2 separate regions of the Homo sapiens genome follow, and region 2 is linked to region 1. The links come from fine-mapping of genetic effects on gene expression. Tissue or cell type: whole blood. Region 1 holds a variant in brackets; the other region holds the start of a gene. All regions are shown on one strand. Distances are between the middles of the regions.

Region 1 (6,700 bases):
ACCCGGCAGGACCTGGGCGGGGGAGTCCATGGGGTCCCAGACCCGACTCTGGACTTGGCCTCGGCGGGAGGGCCGTGGGGTCTGACCTCTGGCATTAGCTCGAGCCGTGGGCTGTGGGCTCCACTCCCCCAGACTCTGAGCGAGGAAGGAGCCCTCCCCTCTCCAGATGGGAGGGGCTGCTGCCTCCAGAGGGTTCTGCCCGGCTGGGTCTGGTCTTGATGCAGGAGGTCTTGCCAGTCAGCTGGCATGTGGGGGTCGAGTTTGGGGGTGGCAGGAGGACCCCTTCCCAGGGGAGGTCAGGCAACCATGTCAGTGCGGAGGGGCAGCTGCTTCCCGGGAACTTTCACCTCCATCCGGATGAGTGCAGTAAGAAGAGCACAGCCCCACACCCCAGCTGCGTCTCCTCTGGGTTCCAAACCCAGTCTCAGTGCGGGTGCCTGAACACTTGGGCGCCTATGAGCAGAGAGCCCAGACCACACGTCTCCTCAAGCCTCCTTCTGCCCGGTTGCGTTTTCTAGGGCTTCCTTGAAAATGCGTGGGTCCCCTGGGAGGGGTGGAAAGTGAAGAAGAGGGACAGCACCGGGAAGGCAGCCAGGGCCTGATGCGGCCACAGAGGCTCTGCAAATGCATGGTGGTGCCGGGTCAGGGCTGAGCCTGGCGCTCAGCTGGGACTGGGCAGGAGGAGGAGAGGTGCAGCGGCTGGGAACAGACAGCTCTGTAGACCAAGGGTCTAAAACTTCTTCCACAACCAGCCCGAGAGTAAATGTTGTCAGCTTTGCGGACCACGCTGTTCCTGTCTCAGCTGCTTGGCCCTGCCAGGAAAGCAGTCCTGGACATTTAGGAAGTCGATGGGCACCACTGTGTTCCAACAAAACTTCATCTGTGGATGCTGCAGTGTGAACTTCATAGAATTTTTGAGTCATGACATACTCTTGTTATTGTTTTCAGTGAATATACAAGAACGATTCTTAGCCTAGGGCTGTATGAAGAGAGGTAGAGGGTTGGGTCTGGCCTGTGGCATAGTCTGCCAACCGTTTGTAGACTATGGGGTAGAGGTTGACAAGTCACTGGGATCCTGAAAATACAGCCCCACAGTTAGATGTCAGCAGTGAATCCTGTAATGGAGTTCCTAGATAATGAACTCCTTCTCATTCTGAGAGTTTTACCAATTGTGCACTTCAGTTTAATGCTCTTGGCTTCAGACTGACGGTGCGTGAAGGCTCTAGCCCCAGGCTAGGGCCCTGGCCACCTATGGGTGGGCCCTGGAAACCCAGAGCAGGCGGCCGGACCTCCCTGTTAAATGCAGACGGTCAGTCCTGCCGGGTCAGTTGCAGGGCGTGCTGAGGCGCACGCCAGACGGTGGAGGGAAAAGCGTTGCCGAGTCCAGCCCGTGGGCGCGTCCTTCTCCACCTCCTTTCACTCCTTTTTTGTGTTTCTCTCCCCCATTCTCCAATGAGGTCAGATCTTCACCTCTGACGGTCATGCAGAGTCCCATCAGTGACACCCTACTTTCTGCCTAATCTTCTGCTTCCCGGCCATCTGGTAGGATTCTTAGAAGTGGATTTATGACTGCCAAGCACTGGAGTCAATCCCTGTCTAACGCCACAGCTCTGTGCTGCCAGGGCTGACCTACAAAGAGCGGGCCTCACCAGCCTGACGCTCTGTGTCCCACTGGGAGTGCGTCCGAGCTGCACTGGAACCGAGGTCACCCCATCTCTTCCCCATCACCCCCATGGCCTCTTGGTCAGCAAGTCCTGCCCTCCTGACTCCCAGCCTCTCTGGAATCCACTCTCCTCCCGTCCCTTCCCATAGTCCTGTCCCAGAGCCCCTCATCTCACTCAGAAATCACCCCAGCAATGATCCGGCTCCCACTGTTACCTGTCACAAGCTACTTTCTAACACAGCAGCCAAAGGTGATCTCTTTAAAACATCAAACCAGGATTGAAACCTGCTTAAGGCCCCCAGTCAGGGGGCAGCCATGGAGTCCCCAGGCCTACATATCCTGCCCCTGCCAAGCTCTGGGCACCGACTTGCCTCTGGCACCACCACCCCACCAGAAGGTTCCATCCCTCGGCCTCCTCCCAGGTCTGCTGATGGCAGCTCAAGCCCTTTCCTGCCCCAAGGCCAGGCTGCTTCCTGGCTGGAACGCTCGCCATGTCTGCCTTGCCCCTGTATCAGCCACCCTGGCCCCAGAGGTCCTTCTCCCAGCCCCTCTCTCATGGCCCTGCCATGGCGCCCTCACTGTGCTCTGCGCATTCGTCACCGACTGTGATGATCTGTGCACGTGTGTTTTTGCTGCCGTTGGTCTCCCCTCAGTGGGAGGCAGCCTCCTGGGGTGGGGACCATGCCTGTGGGGGCGCTGTCTGCCTCCGCCTCCTGGCACCATCACTGGTCTGTAGTGTTTGGGTGGAACCAAAGTCCAGCTCCGTCCGCTCCCAGCCTCCTCTGCGTGGGTGGAAGACAGGGTGGAGGAGAGCAGGATCTCTGAGGCTGCACAGGAGGCCATGAGGCAGCGTTCGCCTCCCACCTCAGGC[T/G]GGGGCTCCTCAATCCAGTGGTAAATCAGAAGATATAAATATGACCTGTGGCACTACCACACTTTCACCAACACGGGCTTTGCCCTCAGCGAGGTCTGAGCAGCAGCTGTGGGGCGTGCGTGGCACTTCCAGGGGCAACTGTTTTTGAGCGCCTGGTGCCACTTCTTGGGGAATAGTAAGCCGCTGCAGGCTTTTGTGCTCGTTTTTACGTCTAGAAATTTTGCCTGAATGTTTCAGTCATAATTTCAGAGGAAGGAGTTGCACCAAGAGTGTTACTGAGTAACTCAGTTTGGAGAAAAATTACCCTTTGTTGTTCCCGATAGAGTGACCGCCTTCTGATCAGAGGTGGGAGGATCGTGAATGACGACCAGTCCTTTTACGCTGATGTGCACGTGGAAGATGGCTTGATAAAGTAAGTTTCCGCCGAAAATGAAAATACGTTCCCAGCTCGTGTGTACACGCTGGTCACGTGGTATCCAGGCAGTTGAAAGTATGTTCCCAGCTCGTGTGTACACGCTGGTCACGTGGTATCCAGGCAGGTGAAAGTATGTTCCCAGCTCGTGTGTACACGCTGGCCACGTGGTATCCAGGCAGTTGAAAGTATGTTCCCAGCTCGTGTGTACACGCTGGTCACATGGTATCCAGGCAGGTGCAAATAGTTCCCAGCTCGTGTGTACACGCTGGCCACGTGGTATCCAGGCAGTTGAAAGTATGTTCCCACCTCTTGTGTACACACTGGTCACGTGGTATCCAGGCAGTTGAAAGTATGTTCCCAGCTCTTGTGTACACACTGGTCACGTGGTATCCAGGCAGGTGCAAATAGTTCCCAGCTCGTGTGTACACGCTGGCCACGTGGTATCCAGGCAGTTGAAAGTATGTTCCCACCTCTTGTGTACACACTGGCCACGTGGTATCCAGGCAGTTGAAAGTATGTTCCCACCTCTTGTGTACACACTGGTCACGTGGTATCCAGGCAGGTGCAAATAGTTCCCAGCTCGTGTGTACACGCTGGTCATGTGGTATCCAGGCAGATGAAAGTATGTTCCCAGCTCGTGTGTACACGCTGGTCATGTGGTATCCAGGCAGATGAACATAGTTCCCAGCTCGTGTGTACACGCTGGTCACATGGTATCCAGGCAGGTTAAAGTATGTTCCCAGCTCGTGTGTACACGCTGGTCACGTGGTATCCAGGCAGGTGAAAGTATGTTCCCAGCTCGTGTGTACACGCTGGTCACGTGGTATCCAGGCAGGTGAAAGTATGTTCCCAGCTCGTGTGTACACGCTGGTCACGTGGTATCCAGGCAGGTGAAAGTATGTTCCCACCTCTTGTGTACACACTGGTCACGTGGTATCCAGGCAGGTGCAAATAGTTCCCAGCTCGTGTGTACACACTGGTCACGTGGTATCCAGGCAGTTGAAAGTATGTTCCCAGCTCGTGTGTACACGCTGGTCATGTGGTATCCAGGCAGATGAACATAGTTCCCAGCTCGTGTGTACACGCTGGTCACATGGTATCCAGGCAGGTGAAAGTATGTTCCCAGCTCGTGTGTACACGCTGGTCACGTGGTATCCAGGCAGGTGAAAGTATGTTCCCAGCTCGTGTGTACACGCTGGTCACGTGGTATCCAGGCAGGTGAAAATAGTTCCCAGCTCTTGTGTACACACTGGTCACGTGGTATCCAGGCATTGACTTTTGGGTGAAATCCATGGGAGAGGTTTCTTCTTTTCTAAACCCATCCTTGGCAGCAGTAAGCTGGTGGCCACTGTCAGAGCCCCGGCCTTTGGTGAGGGCAGAGGTATGTTGGGTGGCTGTGGGCGAAAGCAGGACACCAGCTTCCACGTTTCTTTGTTCATCGCAGCACTTAGTATGGTGCCTGGCTCATAGCAGGTGCTTCCTAAATACTGGTGCCCACATCTATTAGCGCACCTGCTTCCGTTTGTCAAGCTGCTCCGTCCTCTAGTCAAAAAAGTACCAACCAGGGACCTGAGTGGAAAACCACAGGGCGTGGCGTCTGCGTGAGGCTGGACCCTGCAGTGACCGTCCTGAGCTGCGCTGAGTGATGCTTTGCTCCCTGGCACTCCCGAGGAGCTAGTCCAGTGAGTGGCCGGCCGTGCTGGCCTTTTCCTCGGGGTCTGGAGCTCATGCAAACCCTTTAGCTCTGCTGCATTGCTGGGAGCCCATCTGGGCTCTGACCTGGGCTCCCTGTAACCAGTGAAATCTCTGCTGCTTTCAGACAAATCGGAGAAAACCTCATCGTCCCTGGGGGCATCAAGACCATTGACGCCCACGGCCTGATGGTCCTTCCTGGTGGCGTTGACGTCCACACAAGGCTGCAGATGCCTGTCCTGGGCATGACACCGGCTGACGACTTCTGTCAGGGCACCAAGGCAGCGCTAGCAGGAGGAACCACCATGATCTGTGAGTGTCTGGGTCTCCTCCTCTACAGGGGGCAGCCAGCGTCTGCTGCCCCTCTCTCTGGCCAGGTGTGTGTGGGAGGAGGAGTGTCGCCTAAAGGTGCCTTTCTCAGCTGTCTGCCTTTATTGCATCTGTCTGAGAACCTGGAGTGCTTTTCTAATCCCTGTGTCTCACTCTGGGTGTTTCTGTGTGGCCAGTGCTGGAATGCTCCTGGGATTTCCAGGACTGGAAATCAGTGACTGACGTGTGTCCACTTGTTCTTCCCTGGGCACTAGTAGCCAGCTCGGAGTTGGGGGTTGGAAAACTCAAATGCCTTGGGCGAGGGGAGGGGTCATGCTGTCTGAAATGCCAGATACATGTTTGACCTTGAGCCACATGCCTCGGAAGCTTCATATCTGGAAGGTTCTTGCTCATGTCAAGAAGAGTTAAGGATGGAGACTGTATTTTTAGAAAAAGATAAAAGCAATGCTCATTATTATCCCATCAAAAAATAACCCGAGTTGCTATTTCTGTAGTGCTGGCTGCGTGCCCGGCACGGGCTCTATCCTGACACCCATCGGCTCACATGCTCTCCTCCTAAAACCCTCTGAGCTCAGCCCAGCTGGGCTCAGCTAAGCCTAGTTTAACAGGTGGGTGAGTGGAGTCCGCCTGCCCACCACGAGCACGTGGTGAGCTCAGGAGGCAGGACGAGGCCTCAGAGCCTAGACCTTGACTGCACTGTGTGGCCTTGGGTGCCATTCACTCTGCGGCGTCCGTCTGGCACAGACATCGCTGCTGTGGTTGAGAACGGGTCTGAGGAGCCTAGCTGAACCTGGTTGTATGGTTTTCTAGCTGTGTGACTCCAGATAAACTCAGCTGGCTTTTATAAGTCACACTTTGTTGATCTGTAAAACAGAACACTGGCCTCATGAGCTTCTGAGGCATGTGTGAGTTAATGCACGTCAGTTGCTTTGTGTCCCTGGCACACCGGGGAGGGCAGCTCTGAGGACCCTGAAACACCTCGCGGGACATTTAGCCATTACCAAATCACAGCTTGGTTTGGTTTACTCAGCCACAAAGGGAGAAAACACCAGCAGCAGCCCATCTTGCAGTCTGAGGAGACTGGCCACTGCTCGCGCCCTTCAGGGGGCGGCCCAAGCCGGTCAGGACGTCTGCACAGTCGAGACCACCTGCCTCGTGCCAGTGCCAAGGCACCCGGCCAGCTGTGGGTCCCCGCGAAGACAGAGAAACACCACAGACACGAGGCTGGCCTCTATCCTGCCTCTGTCTTCCTCGGCCTGCAGGCCCAGGCTGGCACTGTGGGTGGCTGCAGGGAGGCTGGGTGCCCACTTCATCTTGTTGGGATGAGTAGGGGCCCGAGGGAGGGCTGTGCTGGAGGAAGGCATCCCTGGCGGGTGCGCCCTCCTGTCCGACCACCTGGCTTGGAGCTGTGTCTGGCTGCACCAGGAGAGGCCAGTGAGCAGTGTTCGGGCCTTGGGTGTGTGGTTGGTGGGGCAGCAGCATGATGGCTGTGTGCAGGGGGCAGGATGGCCCCTTTCAAGTCTTGTGGGGCACTCGGGAAACCAGCCCAGCTCCCACTGTTCTAGGAAGGCACCCAGAGGTGGGGCCCAGCACCTTGGACAGCGCACTGGCCCAGCCTGGCCCTCGGGGTGCCTCACCCAGCCTGACAGGAGCTGGAGGCAGGGCAAAGCCCCGACCTCCTGTGCTCCTCCAAGTGCGATGTGGGAGTAGGGATGGTTTGGGGTGGGGC
Region 2 (7,400 bases), 120 kb before region 1:
TGCTATTTCTCCAAAACACAAAAAGCAATGATGACGAATTCATAGTTATGTAGTAAAAATACAGAAGCCATGCATGGGAATAAAAAAACAGGTCTCAGTCATGAGACAGAGGGACCGAGGATGGGAGCCCCTGGGGGCAGTCCTGGCAGGATTCCAGGAGGAGGTGCCTTTGCATGACGGGAGCTGGGGTGGTGGGTCCAACAGCTGTGTGCAGGGCCTGGAAGGCGCAGGCCTGTCTGGGAAGGGAGGAGAAAAGGAAGGCAGCCATATTTTTGCTTGGATAATAACTGGTGAATGGCTGTGTCAGGACCTGCAATATAATAGAAGGAAGAGTGAAGTTTGGGGCAGGGCAGGTTATTTTTGGACCCGCCGGGTCTGAGAGGCCCCCGAGGAATTGTATGGAGACACCGGGCCAGCAGGACGGGTGGGTCTGGGAATCAGCGATGGAGCAGCAGAGCCCTGGATTTGGGTGTGATCATGGGAGTGGCCAAGCTCCCCCAGAAAGGACAGGTGACAACTGCCCGTGGGTGGGAAAGGGAAGCCAGGGACGGGCTGTGGGATCAGACTTGGGCCTCGTGGTGCCTGGTGAGGCAGCCACGTGAGACATAGAGACCCACTGGAGGTCGTGGTTTTCCCAGACCCTGTGACACAAGTGAGGCCTGCTGTTTAAGCCTCTTTTCCTCAGAACACGTCCTGGGGGTGCTGGCTCCATCCCAGGTGCTGGGGCTCGGTTTCTGGGATCTGGAAGAATTAGGGTGGAGCTGGCAATGTGGCTGGGAGGCTCAAAGCTCAGCTTCTTGAGGACTAGCAAGGATGGTTTTCTTATTCATCTATTCCTGTGTTTTCCAAATTCTCTACAATGAGCACATTTCACTTTTACAACTAGAAAAATGGATGCTATTTAAAGAGCAGGCTGCTCCCTAAGCTGGAACGCCGGGTGTCAGCCCGGCCCAGCACCCACCTGCTCTCCGCCTCAGCCAGCGTGGGGATTTGGAAGGGACAGTGTCTCCCTCTGGGCTCCGGGAGAGAACGGACCGTCTGCAAGGGGCACGTTTACTGCAGGAATCAAAAGCACATACACGCATGTGCATCTGTTTGGAAATGAAAGTAGATGTTTTTTCTGATTCTAAAAATATTGTTTCCAATTCTACAAAAAAAATACATACAATTCAGAAAGATACAAAACAAAATATCAAGTCACCTGAGATCCTATCACCTGGAGCTATGGCCACTTTAGAGCTTGGTATCTACGCTTTCAGGCTTTGTTTTTCTTGAGTGCAACACACACAGGCACGCGTTTTTAAAAACAAATAATGTGATCATACTATACACACTTTTTTAAACAGAAATGTGAGCATACGATACCAGCTTTTTTATGGCTGACTTTAAAAAACTTAAACAATAGGTTGTTTACGTCTTTCTGTTAAGCTTGGACTGGGGACATTTTTAAATGGCCCCATTGTATTTGGACGTATGTGCGTTTCCCATCGCTTGTTAAATCACTCCTCTGTTGGACGTCTAGGATGTTTCCAATTATTCCCTGTTATATTATGGACAACACTGCCGTAAGCATCCCTGAGTGAGTTATATTTAAAGGCTTACAACAGCGCCTGGCACGGGGTAGGTGCTATAAAGTATTTGGACTAAAGTCAAATCTGTGCACACACCATCCTTGTGTTGTTTCCCCAGGATCAATTCCAGCAGGAGGACAGCTGGGCTGAGGGGGCACTGCCCTCGTCAGGAAGGTTGTCCCCGTGGCCTGCCTCCGACTGAGGAGGAGCCACCCTCGGGGTCGGGCGTGGACCCCGAGCCGCCGGCATGGGAACCCTCTTTGCTTCAGGGCAACACGGGAGGGGTCTGGATCTCCGACCCACCGTTCCGGGTCTGAATCCAGCTCCGGGACCTGACAGGGATGTGATTGTGGGGCAGCCGCATGGCCTCTTGGCGCTCCAGCCTCCTCCCCTGTGACATAGAGGCAGCGATGGTTGGTAACCAGGGACAGCGGGCGGCTCCGTCACACGAGTCAGGACATGTGACCCTTGGAGGGTTGTTGCATCACCCTGGACGTTTGGCCAGACGTGTGGCCATGGTTTTAATCAGGACAATTTTTTGCTTGCTCTAACTTATGAGGGTGGCCAGATCTAGACAGACAGCAGAAGTAACCCGAAGTCCTGGCCTGCCCTGTGCCATCCTCTGACATGTTATCATCGGCGTTCACTCTGTGGGCTCCTCTCGGGGTGATGCCTGCCGGTCTCAGCTTTGGGGTGAAGTGACATTTGGCCTTGACTAGAAGAGGCAGGTTGTGGGGGGCAGGCAGGGTGCAGGCGAGGGAACTGAGGCAGAGCGGGCTGGGAGCAGGGGGGATGTAGGGTCCTCCCAGGCTGACCCCCAGAACCTGGGCGTGCAGGCCTGCTCTGGGGTCCAGGCTCCGATGCAGTCTCAGCGCAGGCCCTGGTGGCCGGAGACAGGGCAGGGCAGGAGCTTCAGGCCACCCGCACCGGCAGCCCTCAAGGCTGCCTTGATGGAATCGGACCCAGATGGACTCTAAGCGGCCTCCTGCTTGGAAACCCTGTCAGACCCTGCGTTTTCTACAGAGCGGCTGTCACACGGCTTTTCCGGACGGTGATTATGGACTGCGTGTGGGATTGGCGGGCCAGGTGAGCTCTCGTGCTTGCCCTTCACACAGGAATGCTGCTGGTCTCCTGTGTCTGGTTCCCGTCTGCATTTTCAGTCCTCAGTGTTGAGTGTGTGCAAATCCCTTCTATCACCTGACATTTAAAATAGATACCCTCAGAGTGGAAGTTCGTTCCTATTATTGACCCGCTCACTCTGCAATCTTGAAGGGGGTTCTCCAAGCAGGAGGGAAAGCCGGCCAGAACGCGGTCCTGGAGCAGCCAGGAAGCCGAGGGGGCGGTGAGGGCAGGGATGGCCCAGCCGTGGCCTCTGCCGCTCGCTGGTTTTCACGTGAGACTGCCGCCGGGCCAACCCGGAGCCCAGGCCGCCTCTGCATCTGAATAGAGCCAAGCTGCCTTCAGGATCTCACCTGCGTGGCTGTGCCTTCGGCCGCCCGGCCGTGCAGAGCTGCGGGCCCCTTCCCCACCGAGAAGCGTCTGTTCGCGCCCTGCAGGGAGCTGGGCTGGGGGCTCAGAGGATGCCTCTGTGCTTGGCCTTAAGGTGCACAGGGAGAGCTTGGGCGATCCTGGCTCAAGGGCTCTGCTTGGAAACAGCTCGGGGAAATGGTTCCTCCCCCTGGATGTAGTCACAGCGTGGTAAATTCCATCTGAAAAATAAAAGCCGAGCTCTTTGCTGAGTCATAGAAGCTCGGAGCTGATTTGCGCAAAAGCCGGACTGAGTCTTGGACGAGCCGGGAAAGATTCTCACAGTCGAGCAGAGCGATGGGAGAGAGGAGCAGACAGCGAGCTTTGGAATGTGAGTGTTTATTTTCTGACTGCTGCAGAGGCTTTGTTGGTTTCGGTTTGGCTGTCTCTGCACAGGCTCTTTCCACCTGGTGCTCTTCTGTATTTAGTGCGCACACGTATGTGGCTGGAAAGTTGACAGTTTGGGGTCTGTCCTCTGAGGGGTGCAGGGACGATCACAGAGGAAGATGCTTCATTTATCCGTTTTCACGTTCATGCTCATGCACACATTTGGAGGAGGCTTGGGCCTGCGTTCCCAGTAGTAGGTTTCTCCTTTAAAGCATGGGTGTGTGTTCCATCCCATATGTAAAGCGGATGCTTGTTGGCACGGCAGCCGTGGTGGGGTGGGTTGGGGAAGCCAGGCTGAGTCTGTGTATTGCCGGCTGTGGTGAGAATCCCACGGACATAGCACCAGAGAGCTGTCTGCACAGCCCGGGAGGCCTGCGGCGTCCGGGTGCTTCCTGGCTCCGTGGGGTAACCGGCTGGACTTTTTTGCTGCTTGTTTTCCTTTTGAAGAATAGGTCATCTTTATGGCTTGAGGCCTCACCACCTACCTGCGCATTGATTGGATGGTGTCTTCTCTTTAAAACTTAATCAAGAATCACACATCACTCATTGATATAACTTCTTATGCAAGGAACTCCAGGTTTTTGGGAAACAACAGCTTATTAACTTACTAATTCACTCTTTGAGGTTATTGCACCATGCCTCAGTTTCTACAGTTGTTCAAAGAAAATCCACTGCTGATTGGGACTGGCAGGGCTGCGGTGGAAAGGGTGTCACAGGTAACTTGGCAGTACGTTGTTGTACTGATGCTTATTGAGATGTCAGTGAGACTGGCCGGGAAACCATGCAGGCACCCTAGGGATGTAAATACTTGCTGCTGCCGTTGATTTTGTTGTTCACAGTGTGGGAGAACCAGTCACAAAACGGTTTTCTCATTCCAAGCCAAGCCTGGAGTAGTAGACTTGAGAGTCCTCTCAGTGGATCGGGCCTTTGAGCAGGTCCGTGGTAAAACGCCACCTCAGTTCCCGAGAAGAGCAGCAGAAGAGGAAAGTGAGCCGGGCCGAGGAAGGACCCTCAGTTTACATTCACAGCATTACCGGCAAAAGGCTGGCGTTTGGATGAGGTTCCCTAAGAGTCCCACAGAGTAGATCAATATGATCAATATGTGCTTGGAGAAGACAAGACGCCTGGCACATTCACATTCCTTCTCCAAGGCTGAGGGTGGGGGGAGGGCATTGGCATTCCTGCTATTCCCGAGGTTTCCCTGCCTCTCCTGTGAGTTGAGGGCACCCCTGTGAAACCTAAGGGCACGCTGTGGCAGAGAACATGCACGGAGCTCCTGCTTCTCTCCCGACAGCCCTGGGAAGGCCTTACTACTTTAGGTCCTAACTAACAATATCCAAACGACCAGGTGGTGGTCCCACAGCAAGGGAGCTGTCAGTCAGAGCTGTGCCTCTGCCCCCGTATTTTGGATCGAGCTCCTCCAAGAGAAGTAAGTGTCCTATACATGTTCTTGGAAGGTTGATCTTGACTGTGGACTTCCGTGTGGACTGTGGGCTTCCGTGTGTACTGTGGGCTTCCGTGTGGACTCTGGGCTTCCGTGTGGACTGGACTGTGGGCTTCCATGTGGACTGTGGGCTTCCGTGTGGACTGTGGGCTTCCGTGTGGACTCTGGGCTTCCATGTGGACTGGACTGTGGGCTTCCGTGTGGACTCTGGGCTTCCGTGTGGACTGTGGGCTTCCGTGTGGACTGTGGGCTTCCGTGTGGACTGGACTGTGGGCTTCTGTGTGGACTGTGGGCTTACGTGTGGACTGTGGGCTTCCGTGTGGACTGGACTGTGGGCTTCTGTGTGGACTCTGGGCTTCTGTGTGGACTGTGGGCTTCCGTGTGGACTCTGGGTTTCTGTGTGGTCTGGACTGTGAGCTTCCGTGTGGACTGTGGGCTTCTGTGTGGACTGGACTATGGGCTTCCGTGTGGACTGTGGGCTTCCGTGTGGACTGTGGGCTTCCGTGTGGACTGTGGGTTTCTGTGTGGACTGTGGGTTTCTGTGTGGTCTGGACTGTGGGCTTCCGTGTGGACTGGACTGTGGGTTTCTGTGTGGACTGTGGGTTTCTGCGTGGTCTGGACTGTGGGCTTCCATGTGGACTGTGGGCTTCCGTGTGCACTGTGGCTTCCGTGTGGACTGTGGGCTTCTGTAAACTGAATTCCATTCAGGACCAATGCCATATCTTTTTATTTTTCCTTGACTCCTGAGTTTCCAGACAGGCAAGCTAGGATGTGGCTGGATGGTGGTGTTAATTTTCCATTTGGACCCTGAAACGGCCCTCTTTAGTACGGGGATTGAATAAGTTCAGGACACTAGCCACTGAGATGACTCTTTTTGAAAGAGCCTATGTTGGCCTCCTAGGCTTCTTCCATGAATCTCTTGGGCAAGTGTTTCTTATCCATGAACCTCTTGGGCAGGTGTTTCTTATCTCAATATAGCCCTGTTGGTCTGGCACCCCAAGCTGGGCTTTGAGCGATGTGAGGTAGACGTGCTTTGGGAGCCGGAGACTGGAGGTGTCTCCTGTCCTGCACCTTAGCCCCAGGAGCTGCCTGGGCCTGCTTTCTTTGCAGACGTCTTATATTTATCAAACCTGTGCTGCAGGCAAGGGCCATGCTTACTTTCCTTTGGGGTCCCTCTGGAAGGCTCTCAGGAGCTGAGTTCTTGATTGCCTTGGGTTTTTGACCCCAGGACATGACATCAGGAATGTCCTGTGGTTGCCAGTTTCCAAGCAAGCACAGCTGGCAGGGGCATCATGGGAAACCCTCTCCTTGGCACAGAGAATTGGTCTCCAGAAAAACCGGGCCTCAAAGTGAAGCCGGAATTCAAACCTAGGGAAAGTGACTCCGGCCAGCTCAGGATGAAGGATGTGACTGGATCAGGAGGATTTGCAGACCTTACTGGCCTTAGTGCTCGGCCTGCGGCTGAGTTCGAGGGGAGCGCCTTTAGCTGGACTGGTCCAATGTGTTTAATTGGGTAAGGAGGAATCCTACCCAGGCGCCATTCTTCCTGGGCACGGAGCTTATTAAAACTTTCCCCAGCTGCTGCTCTTCCCAGACATCCACCTGCCTGGTGGGTGGTTGACCCAGGACTACTTTGACTTTGAAGGACCCCAGGTCTTCCTGCCTGAGGAGGACTCTGAGCACCCAGCCAGGGGTGGGAGGCCAGGGGAGGGGTCTGGAGGCCTCGGTTTTTCTTCTGAAGGGACACTGGGTCTGTGTTACACCCCCAAGGACACGTTTTCCCAGGTCCCCACTGACCTGTTTCGTGTTAAGCTGAGATCCAGTACTATCCTGATGGTGGTGGGGTGGGTCTGAGCAGGAAGGGGCCTGGAATCCATCCCATCTTCACCAGGGACCCCCCAGACAACCTTCTCAGGGGGCTCCTGGGTGTTTTGGTGATGAGCTCCGATGGGGAGGAGTTAGGACTTGGGCTGAAGCTCTGCTGTTTGAAGCTGTCTCACATGTAGGTCTGGCATCCCCCCCTGCGTGCAGGTCTCTGTGGTCAACCTCCTGTTGTGTCCAGCGGCCATGTCCATTTCAGAGTTTCATTAAAGAGCGCAATTGGCAGGTGCATAGCACCTGATAGCCTGCAGCATGGCTCTGGTCTCAGAGTGGGAAGAAGAGGAAACCATGGACAGAAGGACCTTCCAGTGACATTTAGCAAAAAGAAGCAAAGTGTGAAAGTGAGGTGGTGATGTTGGGTTGGGAAGGTGGGGGCTTCCTGAGCCCGCCCTTGCTGCTTATCCATTCCACCAATGTTCACTGGTACCAGCACCCTGTGTGTGGGCACTGATGGCATAGGGCACAATGGGAGCACAGACGGGGCTCGGTCCCCAGTAGAGTGTGACCCACATGGGGAGTTCTGCAGCCTACCCTGTACCTTAGAGAGTGACACGGGGCTGGCAGGTGGCCGGTGGCATCAGGAGCGGTGA

The links. PIP is the estimated chance that this variant, and not a neighbour inherited with it, causes the effect.
Region 2: JAKMIP3 starts here. The variant in region 1 is fine-mapped to the expression of JAKMIP3 in whole blood (TOPMed, PIP above 0.99). The same link has a PIP of 0.9 or more in T cells.

What each region holds. Positions count from the first base shown.
Region 1 is chr10:132,187,890-132,194,589 of GRCh38, forward strand. DPYSL4 (dihydropyrimidinase like 4) reads left to right here. Exons shown (of 14, transcript NM_006426.3): 2 at 2,858-2,946; 3 at 4,769-4,953. Among named protein-coding and RNA genes, the nearest start is that of DPYSL4, 4.3 kb to the left of the region's middle. RefSeq lists an enhancer at 1-279. The variant T/G (reference allele first, on the strand shown) is at 2,535.
Region 2 is chr10:132,062,633-132,070,032 of GRCh38, forward strand. It overlaps JAKMIP3 (Janus kinase and microtubule interacting protein 3), which reads left to right and starts at 3,314. Exons shown (of 24, transcript NM_001323087.2): 1 at 3,314-3,429. RefSeq lists enhancers at 2,091-2,838, 5,113-5,613.